Linked DNA regions of Homo sapiens: region 2 is linked to region 1. A link means that fine-mapping ties the variant in region 1 to the expression of a gene that starts in the linked region. Tissue or cell type: stomach. Region 1 holds a variant in brackets; the other region holds the start of a gene. All regions are shown on one strand. Distances are between the middles of the regions.

Region 1 (8,348 bases):
AACTCTCTAATTTGATTTTATAACAGCTTAACTTCAGTAACATATGAGATTCTGCTCCTTTACAGACTAGACCTCATTTTTCAGTTATTGATGCTTCAAAATTACATCTTTCCACATTGTGGGTCCAGATATATGAACCAATAATTACTTTTAATGCATTAATATCTTAAATAATGTAGAAAACAAAATGTATAGCTGCAGACCAAAGTTACAATAATACAAATTTTTATAATTGTTCATGTATTTACCTTTACTGTGGATCTTTACTTCTTCACAAAGCCTTTTTTTTAAACTGTGTAATGCTCTTTTATTTCAAAGTGTGAGGCCACCTTTAGTATTCCCTGCAGGGTAGATCTAGGGTCATAAATTTCCTCAGCTTTTGTTTATCTGGGATAAACAAAATTTATTTCTCCCTCATTTATTAATTTCTTAATTTCTCCCTCAATTTTGTGTTTTTTAAAAATTGTACTTAAAAACCTTTATGTTTAGAGGTACATGTTCAGGTTTGCTACATAGGTAAGTTGCATGTTGCAGGGGTTTGATGTACAGATTATTTCATCAGCCAGGTGATGAGCATAGTGCCTATGCTATTTAGGTAGCATAGCATAACTACTTAACTCCAGTGGGTGGTTTTTCAATCTTCACCCTCCTTGCACTTTCCATCTTCAAGTAGTCCCAGTGTCTATTGTTCTCATTTTTGTGTCCATGTGTACTCAAGATTTAGTTCCTACTTAATACGGGAGAACACGCAGTATTGGTTTTCTGTTCCTGCGTTAGTTCACTTAGGATAATGGGATAATGGCCCCCAGCTCCATTCATGTTTCTGCAAATGATATGATCTTGTTCTTTTTTTATGGATGTGTAGTATTTCATGGTGTATGTGTACTTCATTTAAAAAAATCCAGTACTACTGTTGATGGGCACATAGGTTGATTCCTATTGTCTTTGCTATTGTGAATATTTCTACAACGGTAGAACAATTTATATTCCTTTGGGTGTGTATCCAATAATGGGATTGCTGGGTCAATGGTAGTTCTAAGTTTTCTGAGAAATCACCAAACTGCTTTCCACAATGGCTGACCTAATTTCTTTCCCACCAGCAGTGTATAAGCATCCCCTTTTCTCCACAGCCTCACCAGCATGTTATTTTTTGACTTTTTAATAATAGCCATTCTGACTGGTGTGAGATGGTCTCTCATCGTGGTTTTGGTTTGCATTTTTCTGATTAATAATGTTGAACATTGTTTTATATTCTTGTTTATCCCTTATTTATGAAGGACAGTTTTGCTAGATACAGGATTCATGGTTGACAGTTGTTTTTCTTTTAGCACTTTAAATATATAATCCTACGAAAAGGCCTTTTTATGTGATGTGTCACTTCTCTCTTGCTGCTTTCAAGATTCTCTCTCTCTCTTTTTTTTTATTTTTGGCAGTAGGATTATAATGTCTTGGTACGGGTCTTTCTGAGTTATCTCATTTGGAGTTCGTTAAACTTCTTGGATGTTTATAATTCTTGTATCTCATCACACTTGGAAATATTTGGGGTACTATTTCTTCAAATAATCCCTTTGCCTCTTTCTCTTCTTGCAGAACTCTTACAATGGATATGTTGGTCTGCTTCATAATATCCTACAGGTTGGTTAGGCTCTGTTCACTTTTCTTAAATCTTTATTGCTATTCCCCAAACTCAGTAATTTCCATTGTTCTGTCCTCAAGTTCATCAATTCTTCTAACTGCTCATATATATACCCTTCAATTCTTCTAGTGAATTTTTGTCTTCAGTTGTACTTTCCAGTTCCAGAATTTCATTTTGGCTTCATTTGGGTTTTCTATATTTTTATTGATCTTTTTATTTTGTTCATGCTTTGTTTTCTTGATTTTCTTTACATCTTCCTTTACTTCTTTGACTATCAATTGTTTTAAACTCTTTGCCTAGTAAATATTTCATCAGGTCTTTCTGAAGGACAGTTTCTGTTGGTTTATTTTTTCCTTTGAATGAGACATACTTTCCTGTTTGTTGGATGCCTTGTGGTTTTTTTGTTGAAAGCTATATATATGAATCTAATAATATCATGTCTCTGGAAATCAGATTCTTCTCCTTTCCCAGAATTTGCTGTATCTGTTCTGTTTTAATTGATATAGGCTTCTCTGTGCCAAGGACCAGCCTGAGGTATAAATCTAAGGTCTTTTCTGGTCATTTCTGAGTCTATACCTTTCTCCGGGCATGCACAGTTACTTTCTAATTTCCTCTATATATGTGGTTGCTTTTAATTTAATGTCCTAGTCTTTAATGTCTGGCTCTCAAAAGGGGAAAAGGAGAAAAACTAAAGGTGCCGAGGCGCTGGCCCTTTAAACCCCCCTGGATCTCACTTCAGCTGGAGAGGGAAGGGCTTGCAACAAAGGAGGAGTTGCAACAAAACTTCCCACCTTTGTCTGTGTCTCTGCCTTTTTGATCAGAGCATCAATCAGATATCAGAACACAGATCCCTGATATTTAATGGACAGTATCCTTATGGCTCCTGCTGGTTTCGGCAAGCTGTGTGCAAGCTGATCCAGAAATACGCAGGAGAATGGGGATGGATAGCCACTGCTGAGTTAAGAGCTGAAATTGACCTAAATGTACTGAAATTTACTATCCAGGTCCTCTCCTGGAAGGTGCAAGCAAGCCTTCAGTAGACTCCAAGATTCCAAAATATTTACCTCAGACAGATTATGTCAGTGTAATTGTTCTGTTGGAGGGGAGATAAATTTTTGGTGCTTCATACTGTGCCATCTTCCCAGAATTCTCTCCAACATTTGTTTTTTACATTTACTTATCTTTAGCAGTGTTCTTTATTTCTCTATGTAAATTTGAGTTAGCCTAGAGTTCTTTTATTTCAGTCCAAAGGACTCCCTTTAGCATTTCTTATAGAGTAAGTCAACTAGCAGTTAACTGTCTCAGTTTTTATCTGGGAGAGTCTTAATTTCTCCTTTATTTTAGCATTAGGTGATATACATAATGCTAAATAACGAGTTAACGGGTGCAGCACACCAATATGGCACGTGTATACATATTTAACAAACCTGCACGTTGTGCACATGTGCCCTAAAACTTAAAGTATAATAATAGTAAAAAAAAAAAAAAAAAGAATGGAGAACTATTCCATAGTAAAGGAGACTTAAGAGGCCTGACACGTAAATGAAATGTGTGATTCTAATGTGGATATCCTTTCACTATAAAATACATTATTGAGACAATTGATAAAACTTGAAGGAAGTCTATGCATTAAATGATAGTTATGTAATTTCCTGATTTTGATCATGGTATTTTGGAGAAGAGAGAGAATATTCTTGTTTATGAAACATCATCTCTAAGTATGCAGGGATGATAGAGTATCAGGTCAGCCGCTTAATCCCAAGTGATTTAGGGAACAAAGAGTTCTTTATCCTCCAGTTACAAGCGTATGGCTGTGGGCAGCTTATTTTGTCTGACTACTTTTGTTTTCTCATCTATTGTACGGGACTAGTGATAGTATTTATCTCTTTGCATTGTTATGAGATTAAATAAGATGGTAAAGGTAAAGTGGTTATTTAGTGCCTAAAGTTGGCTAGTTTTTGAGTACCTTTATATATTAGCTCCAACTATAATATGAGAATTATGGTTACTGTTTATTTTTTACCTTCCTCCTATCTTGGCCCACTTTTAGTGTGTCTTCCCTTCTGCCCTACTGTTTCCTATCCATGTTGGTTTCCTTTCCATAGCAACTCTTGCCTCTCCAATACAAAGCTTCATGCTCCAAAAAGCACTGAGTCATAGAGCATGAGTTATTCCTTGCATGATTATAATATCTTCACCAATAGAAAGAGATAATTTGTGTGAAAGGTAAATGTACAAAAAAAATACAAAAATCTCATTTTTACAGGTTTCATAATGCAAATTTTTTCCATTCAAATAGAATAATTCACTTTAGAACATTTCTGAAGGTGAATTAGATTCTATTGTAGTAAATACCTAAGCTAAAGTATAGCATTCTCTCCCTTTTTACTCTCTGTGAAATAGAATATGTAAAACCTTCTAAAAGAATTTATATGCATAACTCAAGCCATCTATTCCAAATACTTAAAGTTACAGGTC[G/A]GTTATGTATATATGTAAAACTGGTACTTTAATGCTATTATTTATTAAAATATTGATTTTCTATTAAAAAATTCTCCTTTATTTTTCAAAAATAGTTTTTATCAAATATAGATCTCTTGGTTGATGGTCTTTTCTTTTAGCTCTTTGAATATTTCATATGTCTGGCCTCCATGGTCTGTGGTAACAATCAGCCATTAATCTTATTGAGGATTTCTTGTGCATAATGACTTGCTTCTCTCCTGCTGCTTTTACGATTCTTTATCTTTTGCTTTTGACAGTTTGATTATAGCGTGTCTCATTGTGAATCTTGTTATGTTTATCCTACTTAGAGTTTGTTGAGCCTCTTGGATGTAATTCATCAAGTGAATTGATGTTTTGGACCATTATTTCTTTAAATATTCTTTCTGTCCTTTTATCTTTTTATCTCTCTTATCTTCTGGGATGCCTAATATGCAAATGTTAATATACTTGGTGGTATTTCATAGGTCTCTTAGGATCTGTTGATTTTTCTTTATTCCTTTTGTTCCTCAGATTAGGAAATCTCAATGAACTTACTTTCAAGTTTGCTAATTCTTCCCTCTGTCTGCTCAAGTGTACTGCTGAACTTCTTTTGTGAATTTTTCATTTCAGTTGTTATAATTTTTTAATCCAGAATTTTTTTTTGGTTACTTCATAATATGTCTCTTTATTGAAGTTTTCTATTTGAAGTGATATTATTCTAGTGGTTCTCTTCAGTTCTTTGTATGTGGTTTCCTTAAGAGCTTTAAGCATATTTAAATAGTTAATTTAAAGTCTGTCTAGTAAGTCCAATAGATGAGCTTCCTTAGGGATAATTTCTATTACTTTCCTTTTTTTTCTGTGTATGGGCCATACTTTCTTATTATTTGCACACTTCACAATTTTTTGTTGAAGACTGAACATTTTGAATATTATAGTGTGGCAACTCTAGAAATCAGATTCACTTTCTTCCTTGGGGGTTTGTTGTTGCTGCTTATTATAGTAGTTGTTTGTTTAGTGCCTTCTCTGAACTGATTTTTTAAAGTATGTATTCATTGTTGTATCTAGATTCTCTTTTCGGTTAGCTTAGTGGTGTTCAGCTAATGATTTTACAGAGATTTCTTTAAACTACTGGAGCCGAAAACAACAACAAAAAATTAGAAATCTTTCAGCCTTTGCATATGGGCTCTATGTGAATGTTGAGGCATGCCTTCAACACTTCAGCTTGTAAGCTTACTACTCTGCTATAGTCTTCATTTGTGCTTTCATAGAGCCTGAGGGTCAGCCAGTGACAAGAGCTCTGGATCTTCTCAGGTATTTTCTGAATATGATCCCATCCCTGGGCACATATATGGTCATCTAAATCCCAGGTATTTGTGGAAACTTTTCAGAGCCCTTATTCCCCAAAACATCTCATTTCCCAGTCTTTCGCCCCCAGGTTTTTCAGTTAGTAAATTGTTTGTTCCAACTCTATTATTCCTTGTCCCCAGCAGCAGTGGCAAATACATCTGCCTATAAATATTTCAAACAAATTCTCCCTGGGTAGTCACCTCAGCACTGGTAGAGATTTGAGTTCGTTAAAATAAAGACAAACCCTTTGGGCTTGTTTTTTTGGGATCACTAGCCAAGTCAAAACAACCACAATTCTTTGTGGTCAGAATGAGATCTATTTTACTCTCTGTCATATTAGGACCCTATACAAAAAATGTGAGCTGCTGTCATTAGGGCTGCCTTAAAAAGTTGAGCTGGGAGCAGGAGATGGGGCCAAAGTAACTTTAACACCACATCTCTCTTACTGAAATTTAACTCTCTTTTCTTGATTAAGCATTCATTTTGTTGTTGCAAAATTTGATTGGTTTCAATTGTTCTAATAAAGTTGATTCTGACCGTTTCTGCCTGTATAATTGTGTTTTTGTTGTTGTTGTCGTTGTTGTTGCTGTTGTTTGAGACAGGGTCATGCTCTGTCACCCAGGCTGGAGTGCAGTGGCATGATCATAGCTCACTGCTAACTTGAACTCCTGCCTCAAGCAATCCTTCCACCTGAGCTTCCCAAGTAGCTGGGACACCAGGTGCATGTAACCATGCCTGGCTATTTTATTTTATTTTACTTTTTTCAGGACAGAGTCTCGCTCTGTCGCCCAGGCTGGAGTCCAGTGGTGTGATCTTGTCTCACTGCAACCTCCTTCTCCTGGGTTCAAGCAATTCTCTGCCTCAGCCTTCCAAGTAGCTGGGATTACAGGCGCCCGCCACCATGCCCAGCTAATTTTTGTATTTTTAGTAGAGACCATCTTGGCCAGGCTGGTCTTGAACTACTGAGCTCGTGATCCACCCGCCTCAGCCTCCTAAAGTGCTGGGATTACAGGCGTGACCCACTGCGCCCAGCCACCTGGCTAATATTTTTTAATGCTTTTTTGGTATAGACAGGGTCTTGCTATGTTGCCCAGGTTGGTCTCAAACTCCTGAGCTCAAATGATGCTTCCGTCTCAACTTCACAAAGTGCTGGGATTACAGGTGTGAGCCACTGTGCCCAGCATATTTGCTGTTTTTGTGGAAGAATGGAACTTTAGACTTCCCTACTTCACCATTTTTGCTGGTGTCACTCTCCTTTACTAGTATTAACAACTTATATTAGAATTTGTCACAATTGATGAACCAATATTGATATATTGTTATTAGCTAAAGTCCACTTTAATTAAAATTTACTTACTTTTTACCTAATTCAAATTTACTTAGTTTTTCCGTTTCAGGATCCCATCCAGGGTACCACATTACATAGAGTAGTCATGTCTCCTGAAGCTCCTCTTGGCTGTGACAGTTTCTCAGGCATTCTTTGCTTTTTATGATGTTGACAGTTTCAGGAGTACTAGTCAAGTATTTGGTAGAATGTTGTCAATTGGGATTTGTCAGTTCTGATTTTTTTTTTTTTTTTCATGATAAGGTTGGGGCTGTGAGTTTTTGGGAGGAAAACCTCAGAGGTAAAGTGCCACTTTCATCACATCTTGTCAAGGGTACATACTGCCAACACGACTTCCACTGTTGATATTGACCTTCACTACCTGCCTGAGGCAGTATTTGTCAGGGTTTCTCTACTATAAAGTTAATCCCCCAATCCTCTTTTCCATATTATATTCTTCAGGATGACGTCACTATGCATAGCTCATATGTAAGGAATGGGTAGCTATGTTCTACCTTTTATCAGGTGCAACATCTCCATAAATAATTAGGAATTCTGCGTGGATTTTGTTTCTTTCTCCCTACTTATTTATTTATTCATTTATAGCAGTGTGGATTCGTGGATAACTATTTTATACTTCAGGCTATAATTTAATGTTACTTACCCAACTTGTCCCAGCTTTGGCCATTGGGAACTCTTTCAGTTGGCTCCTGTGTCTTTGGGAATATTTTTTTCCTTCAGCTGGAGGACCACTGGAAGCAGGTTCTTTACCTGAAGCTGCAGTTGATGTTTCTGATACATTAGAGTCTAGTGATGATTAATATTTTCACCGTATGATCTCCAAAACCCTTTCTCTTCTTAGCTTTTAAATTTCACAAGTCTTTAACAGTATTTTCCTGTTATGGTCTTTTTCTCAACAAGAAACATCAAAAGCCTCTGGTATTTTTTTTTATTATTGTTTCTGTATACTTTTAAGACTGTTTCGGCTGGGTTTATAACTTTTTATTCAGCTTCTTATATGGGTCTGTTTACTTCTTTATTTCACATAGGGATAACATTGTTTCCCAGAACTAAGTGTCTTTTTTCTTTTTCCTTTCCCTTCACTCTCTGACCAAAACATTTGTTTTTCCAACTTTCCACTCTCAAAATTTTATCTTGAGAATGTCCCACATTAAGAGAGATGAAGTCGGTGAGTTCGATGTTTGTCACTTATCCCTTGTTCAAACAAGTCTTGATTATCTTGATCCTTATGAGTAGGAAAGTCCCATGTAAAAGATAATCTTATCAGACCAAGAGCTGATCCAGACCAAGTACTCAACTGGAATCATCTTGTCTGATTTCCCTTTAATAAGTCCTCTCTTTGCTTTACTTTTACCTGGAATAACAGTTCCACAAATTTTCCAAATATTTTTCCTCAGGGAACACCCGTGGCAATAATTTTGCTCATTTGCAGTTGACACAGATGCGTTTTCATCCTTTATACTGATTTTCCTGGGATTTCGGTCTGAAATCGGACCACATTTTCTTAACCACTTGAAAGATCTATTCCAGTTTTGAAGGAAA
Region 2 (8,348 bases), 79 kb before region 1:
TTAAATTATATATGAATAGAGAAATGATTTGTCTTGTTATGGACATCTACAGTATGAATATTGTGTAAATAATTAAAATTATGTGCTCAAGGAGTTTTTAATGACATGGGGCAATGTTTATGATATATGTGTTATAAAAAAGAACAAGATACAAATTTTTATATTTTGTCTATTCTTCATATTTAAAGCAGTTCTATAAAATTAGACAGAAGAAAATGGGCCACAATGCTTTATGCTTTAAGCATTTTCCACGATTTGTACATGTGACTTTTATATTCAGAATTATCAACAAATATTACTTAAAAAAACCCTATGTTAAAGCAGGAGCTAAATGCCTCTGTAATTATCCCACAAACCACTGGGTCCTAATCTGCAATGATCTGGAAAATCAACCCTTACACATATAACCATAATATCAATTCAAATTTTTGCTTAAGGCTTCACTGGATGGCTGTATTTTAGTGCTATGAGAGCAACTTTCTTTTCTGCTTTTCTTTAGAAAGTTTGTTTTTACCTTTTTTACATGGCAAGGCCCGTCCTTGGTCTGTGCATAGTAAATGCAGTAAAGTGGTAGCAATGGCCTTCACTGGGCTATGGTTTTGTGGGAAATGATTTTAATTAAGTAAAGAGAAAGCACAGGACATGCTATTTTAAGATTAGGGAACATTTCTTAAAATGTGGCCCTGAAATATTTTGCATCAGTGTAACCTCTGATACTTGCTAAAATGCAGATTTCCCAGCCTACTAAATCAGAATCCTAGGATGGGCCCCAGTAATGTATATTTTTAAAGATAAATCCCAGGTTATTCTCCTGAGATTCTCTAAGAATCATCAGCTGGGGAGGTTTGAGGTTTAGAAATTCTTGCACGGGATCTGAATGCTCCAATGTTAATAAGTAGAATTAGAACTGTTTTTCAATTGCATAAACACAAAATACAAAACACTTTGCTTCTTAGATAAATCAGAATTGGAGGATGGGGCCTACCTACTGCTGTACTGTAATCTTGTTAAAGAGTTTTACATTTGGGAATTTATTGAAAGAGCAGATACCAGTGGTCAGTAACATTGCTAGGAATAGTGGTAGGGTGAGTGTATAGGTGATTTACTCTGGCTAGAAAACAGCTGTCACAAGTTCCATTTCTTCTGGGATATCCTTTAAGGTGGAATGCTTGGCAAAATCAATGTACATCAGAGTCCATAACTCATAATGAAATAGGCTTCCATGGGGAACTGTTGTACCCTGAAGCATGAGCACTAAGTCAGATACACTTGTCACTATGTGGTACGGTCTGATTGTTTGTGTCCCTCAAAATTTATATGTTGAAACTGAGTCCCCGAGGTGATGGTATTAGGAGGTGAGGACTTTGGGAGGTGATTGGCCATGAGAGTGGAGCCCTCATAAACGATATTAGTGCCATTAATAGAAGTTCTACAGAGCTGCTTTGCCCCTTTTACCATGTAAGGTCACAGTCAGAAAGTCCTATCTATGAGGAAACACACCTTTACTAGGCACTAAATCTGCTAGCAACTTGGTCTTGGACTTCACAGCCTCCATAACTGCGACCAATAAATTCCTGTTATTTGTGAGTTACTCAATATATGGTATTTTGTTATAGCAGCACAAGTGAACTGTGACACTATGTGTCTGGAAGATGTGAACAACTTGAGAACTTAGGTTTTTCTTAGGTACAACGGAGATAATACTAGTACCAGATTAGTGATGAAAAATGTTATGCAAAATATTTAGCACAAGCCATGTTATGTAATAAGTACTTCTAAGTGTTTACAGTGACGACTTCACAAAAGCCTGGCTGTAAAAGTTTGGGAAGTCAGGCTTCTCTGGTTGGCTTGGAAGACCATGTTAGTTATCAGACAAGCCAGGGATTTTGAGTAACCCCAATTCTTGAGGGGAAGAAAGTAGAGTGGAAGAGGAGCCAAAATTACTAATAGTCCTTCATCTGAGCTAGATTTTTGATATCTGTTGGTTTTGTGGAAAATCCAAACCTAATGTCTTTTATTGAAATTCCCCATCTCGTGGATGGTCTAGGACTGAATTGAGTTATGTAAAATATCATTTGTGGAGTGATATTCATTTGTATACCTTTTCAGTTCGAAACAGTCAAAAGTCTCTCTCTCTCTCTCTCTCTCTCTCTCACACACACACACACACACACACACACACACGTACACACCCACACACAGCCTTAACCCTGGCCACCTCTATACTATTTCTGGAATCCCAGATTCTATAAAACTATTTTAGTTTCTAACAAATGTCTTGGTCTTTATGATGGTCACCACCATGAAACACAGTTACTTTACACTTTCTTGCCTTGTTCATAAATATTCCCCAAGTAAAATTACTTGCTACACTTTTCCCATTTAAATTTGCATTGGCTAAGTGAGAGACATCTCTACAGATTGCTCAATTTTAGGAAAATAACCATTCCCAAGAAACACAAACAAGTCAAATCAAGATAGTTACCAGGAGCAATTCTTTATATTATCCAGTTGCACAACACACTTCTTGAATAAATGACATATCCTAATTTAGGATACATCACCAGATTCAAGTCAGAGAGTATCCTGTGCCAGTCAATAAGAGTGCGGGTCACTGGAAGATCCCTTCGTAGAATTTTTCTCAGGGCTTCATTGGATAACTCCTGTAATTCTTCCAAGACTGCAGCTTGAAATTTGTTCTCTTGCTCTTCCACAAGCCTTGCAAAACTTAGAGCCAGTTGAGCTTGGTTAACTATTTCCAAGCTTTCTTTCAGGTCCTTGGATATTTCAATATGAAGGTTGACACACCTGAAGAAGTGAGCTTGCACAAATATTCTTCCCGTTACTTGGGTTAGAAATGGGTTAACTTGGAAAATCCATTTAGATTTCCAAAGTCCGTTCCAGCACTCTCCTGTTTCATAGTTGTGATCTTCAATGCAAGCTATCAAGTACTCCTTACTTTTGACAGTTTTTCTCAGCATGTTGCAATTTCCTTTTGGATAGTGGTCATTCACATACAGTTTTAAGGCGCACAGAAGAACAACTCTCAGGTATTCTGCCTCATTCTGAATGATACCATGACTTTGGATGTCTTTCAGCTGATTTTGAAGCAGGTCATATTTGAAAGAAAGTTTGCTTTGATGGTCAAAAAATCGGTAGTCGCCCATTACATTGTGGTGAGACAAGAGTACTGGATTTCCATCGATGCAGAGTGGTACAGAATATTTTTGGCAGTGTTGGTGGCCTGCACACTCACCTTGGTGGTGCATAAGTTTTTCATCACGGATAAGCAGACAGAGATCATCAAAGGCATTTACAAATTCCCCTGGAGGGGCCTGTAATAACAGTCTGCGAATTACTCTTTCCTTGTCCTTCCTGCTCAGCACGCTAAGTGTCATGTTTGGTTGCAACAGAAGCAAAGCTTCTGAAATGAGGAGTGTTCAAAGGATAAGAAAACATTCCATGAGCCACCTTTCCCATCAAGGTGTTAACATTCAAGCTGAAGGTTTTTATGTCTATCCATGAAAGCAGGCAGTCTGGCAAGGTCTGAGCCTCCTGATGAGGTCATAAGAAGCTTTCCTTGTGAAGTGTGGAACCTCTGATGATATCACAATGGGAATTCAGACCAAAAGGAAAAAATGACAGTCACCTGACAGTGTGGTGCCCAGCCAACCAGCTATACCTCTTTTGAAGATTTTAAGAACTTAGCCTCCTGAACAGTCTTCTTCGAAAGTGGTGTGTCTCTGTGTGCATTATATGTTGTCAACGATCTAGAGAAGCAGCCCAAAGTTTCAAGAGTGACAGCACTTTGCAACTTCAGGAATCACAATGGTGTTGATTTATACTCAGGCTCTCAGAGTAGCTGCCCAAACCCACTGGAAGCATATTATGATGAAAGGTTTGAGGGGTTTAAACAAAGTAGTAAAAAATAAAAGGAGATACAATGGCAGTTCATGGAAAAATGCCAGACATCAGGGAAAGCTGTGTTTTCAAATATTGTGGGTTTGGAGGTGGTCAGAACGTAAGAAGCCAAACAGTTTCAAGGGCAGGGTAGTGCAGGTACCACATCTTGCATACTGTTTCTATGGTTAAGTGTGAGCTAGCTTCAAAGAACGAAGGCAAAAAAAACCACTGTGTGTTCTCTGCTTTCTCCCTAGAAAAGTGGTAACAGCTGATGAGTATCAAGAAATTATTTTCTGCAAAGGGGCAGAGTTAATTGTATTTGGAACCCATGACAGCACCTACTGGGGAAAGACTTCTAAGTGAGGAGAAACGGCTCTACAGGTCATGAAACTATGGAAATGAGATATCCATTGAGAGCTTCTTTCTGCTCCTCTTCTTCTTTCTCCTACTTATCCTCTTTACTTGATGCTGTTATTCTTTTCGAGGAGTTCTGAATTTAAGTCCTCTTCATTTAAGTTGAACTGCTTTTCCCTGTTTGTTCTGAGCTTTTCTAACTTTCCCTGCATTCTGGTATCTTTTTCTTACAAGAACATGAGCTTTGCTGGATTAAGTCATAACTATTAAATTTAAGGAGATCTCATTAATTCGTTCTAACAATCTGAAACTTAGTAGTTTTGCACAATTTTTACCTATACCTTTTATAATTTTAGTGATAATTGTCATTATCTCATTTCGATCTTAGTTTTTCAAATGGAAGTGTCCTAGTTTTTGTAGTTTATCTATGATAAGTAAGCTTTTAAAAATTTTTTTCGTTTTTCATACCAAATATACACTCACCATGGTATTTCTGATGCTTTTTGATGGTACTGTCTTGAGTGTGTGTGTAGCTGGGCATTGGACTAATGTAGTAATAATAACTTTATCAGTCATGGTTACTATTTATTGAACACTAAGTAGCAGAAACTGTGTTCGGTGGCATATTAGGAATTCATCTAATGCTTCCACTTTCCTTAAGATTCAGGGTTAATTTGCTCACCTTTCTGGAAGAGAGAACTAAAACAGAGAGGTCAGGTGAGAGGCGATCTTGAAGTCTAGCTGCCTTCCAACTTCATGCCTTCAGGCAATAGATTGTTATAATGTTTTAATGTATGTTCTAAGTAATGACTTCAATTCTCAAATTTTAACTTTAATTCTTTTTTTTGTATTTTTACTGTGCTATGCCCTTTCATACCTTTACCATAGCATAGTAACTACTTAATTTTGTTTTTTAAAAAATATTTATCATACAATTATACTATAATTTACTTTAAACATATTCTTTAAAAATAAAAATAATACAGTAAATCAAATGTTTCTTTAGGAATTTTAAATATTCAATGACTTTCTGTGAGAATTTCCTTAACTTTTTTGTGCTTCTACATGGTTTTTGTCAAAGATTCAGGATGACTTCAGAGGTGGAAAAATTAACCTAGAAAAAACTCAGAGGTTACTTGAAAAATTAGATATTCGGTGCAGTTATATTCATGTGAAACAGATTTTTAAGGTAAGATGACATCCACCCCCTGCCTATCCTATCCTAGGTGGAACTTAATCCAATGTCAGTAATTGTCATATAAAGGTTAGTCTCTTAAGAAGAAAAGCAATTAATTATACTAACTATATTTACAATCAAGATGGAGAGCATTTCAGTAGAAGGTAAAATTAGTTGTTGAGAAAATCTGAAATAATACCAGGATATCAGTTTAGAATAATTTCCTGAGCATACAGAAATGCTAACATTAAACCTAGGATTGGATGTCTAATTATATCAGACTGATAATGGTAACTGTATTAGATGTTAGTGATTTATAAAAAGAGTGGAGAATAAGCCCAAAGTTAGCAGAAGGGAGGAAATAATACAGATTAGCACAGAAATAACTAAAATAGAAAAGAAAAAAATTAGAAGAAATTGAGGAAACTAAGACTTGTTTTTTTGAAAAGTTAAATAAAATTGACAAATACTTAGAGTAAGAAAAAAGAGAGAGGAGTCAAATAAAATCAGAAATGAAAGTGGAGACATTACAACAGATCTCACAAAAATGAAAAACACATAGAGCAATCATACACCATAAAATTGGACAATCTAGAAAAAAAAGGGAAATTTCAAGAACCATATAACCCATCAAGACTGAACCAAGAAGAACTAGAAAGGTTAAACAGACCAATAACAAAAAGGAGACTGAGAGGCTGTGTGCAGTGATTTGTACCTGTAATCCCAATGCTTTGAGAGGCCAAGGTGGGAGGATCACTTGGGGCTAGGAGTTTGAGACCAGCCTGGGTAACATAGTGAGACCCTGTTTGGAGACTTAATCAGTAATCAAAAACTGCCCAACGAAGAAAAGCCCAGGACCAAATGACTTCACAGGTGAATTCTACCAAAGATTTAAAGAAGAATTAATACCAATCCTTCTGAAATGCTTCTAAAAAATAGAAGAGGGAACACTTCCAGTTTTATTTTATAAGGTCAACATCATCTGGATACCAAAGCTGGACAAAGGCACCACAAGAAAACAAAACTTTAGGCCAATATTCCTGATGAACATAGATGCAAAATTCCCCAACAAAATAATAGCAAATCAAATTTATAGCACTTTAAAAGGATCATATTCCATGACCAAATAATATGTGTCCCTGGCATGCAAGGATGGCTCAACATACAGAAATCAATCAATGTGATACACCACATTAACAGAATGGAGATAAAAATCACATGATTATCTCAAAAATATAGAAAAAGCATGTGACAAAATTTAACTCCCTTTCATGATAACTCTCAGTAAATTAAGTATAAAAGGAACTTAACACATTAAAGTCCATATATGAAAAGCTTACAGCTAATATCATATAAAATAAACTGAAAAGATTTTTTTCTAAGATCTGGGAAAAGGCAAGGATGCCCACTCTCACCACTTCTGTTCAAGATGGTACTGGAAATCCTAGCCAAAGCAATTAGTCAAGAAATGAAAATAAAAGGCAATTAAATTAAAAAGGCAGAAGCAAAATTATCTCTATTCACTGATGGCACAATCTTACATGTAGAAACTCCTGAAGATTTTGTTAACAAACTACCACAAGGCCGGGTGTGGTGGCTCATGCCTGTAATCACAGCACTTTGGGAGGCTGAGGCAGGTGCATCACCTGAGGTCAGGAGTTCGAGGCCAGCCTGGCCAATGTGTTGAAACCTCGTCTCTACTAAAAACACAAAAATTAGCCAGACGTGGTAGTGCACGCCTGTAATTCCAGCTACTCAGGAGGCTGAGGCACGAGAATTGCTTGAACCTGGGAGGCAGAGGTTGCAGTGAGCTGAGATTGCGCCACTGCACTTCAGCCTGGGCAACAGAGCGAGAGTCCTCAAAACAACAACAACAACAACAACAACAAAAACAACTACTAGAACTATTAAATTCAGTAAAGTTGCAAGATACAAAATTACTATGTAAAAATGTGTTGCATTTCTATTCATTAACTATGTACTATCCAGAAAGAAATCAAGAAAACATTTTCATTTACACTAGCATTAAAAAATATATAATGCTTAGGAATAAATTTAACCAAGGAAGTGAAAAACTGGCACACCAAAACTGTAAACCACTGATGAAATAAACTTTAAAAGTTACAAATAAACAGAAACACATCCCATGTTAATATATCCATACTACCCAAGGTGATCTATAGATTCAATGTAATCCCTACTAAAATCCCAATGGCATTTTTGTTTTGTTTTCACAGAAACAGAAGAAACAATCCTAAAATTCATATTGGAATCAAAAAAGACCCTGAATAACCAAAACCAATCTTAAAAAAGAAATATAAAGGTGGAGGCATCACAATTTTTGGTTTCCAAATGTATTTAAAATACTTCAGTAATTGAGGCAGTATGGTAGGGGCATAAAAACAAATATGTAGACTAATGGAACAGAATAGAGAGCCCAGAAATAAACCCCTTCATATATAGTCAACTGATCTTCTACAAAGGTACTAAAATACATAATGGGGAAAGGATAGTCTCTCCAATAAATGGCATTGGGAAAACTGGATATTCGCATGTAAAAAATGAAATTGGACTCTAACCTTACCCCATATGCAAAAATCAACTCAAAATCCATTAAAGATTTAAACTTGAGACCTGAAACTATGAAACTCATAGAAGAAAATAGGAAAAAAGCTTTTTGACATTGGGCTTGGCAAGAATTTCTTAGATATGATTCCAAAGGGATTGAAACAAAGACAGGTAACAAAAACTTGTCTAAAAATAGAAAAGTGGGATTACATGAAACAAAGTGGCTATTGCACAGCAAAGGAAACAATCAACAAAAATGTAAAGCCAATTTACAGAATAAAAGAAAATATTTGCAAGCCACATATCTGATAAGGGATAGTATCCAAAATTGAATCCCACAACTCCA

Evidence for each region. PIP is the estimated chance that this variant, and not a neighbour inherited with it, causes the effect.
Region 2: PLCZ1 starts here. The variant in region 1 is fine-mapped to the expression of PLCZ1 in stomach (GTEx, PIP 0.95).

What each region holds. Positions count from the first base shown.
Region 1 is chr12:18,654,443-18,662,790 of GRCh38, reverse strand. It overlaps a transcript of PIK3C2G not described here and a transcript of PLCZ1 not described here. Among named protein-coding and RNA genes, the nearest start is that of PLCZ1, 79 kb to the left of the region's middle. The variant G/A (reference allele first, on the strand shown) is at 4,115.
Region 2 is chr12:18,733,319-18,741,666 of GRCh38, reverse strand. PLCZ1 (phospholipase C zeta 1) reads left to right here and starts at 3,655. Exons shown (of 15, transcript NM_033123.4): 1 at 3,655-3,735; 2 at 4,158-4,306; 3 at 5,323-5,446. The coding sequence starts at 4,296. It overlaps CAPZA3 (capping actin protein of muscle Z-line subunit alpha 3), which reads right to left and starts at 3,548. Exons shown (of 1, transcript NM_033328.3): 1 at 2,479-3,548. The coding sequence starts at 3,398. The coding sequence ends at 2,499.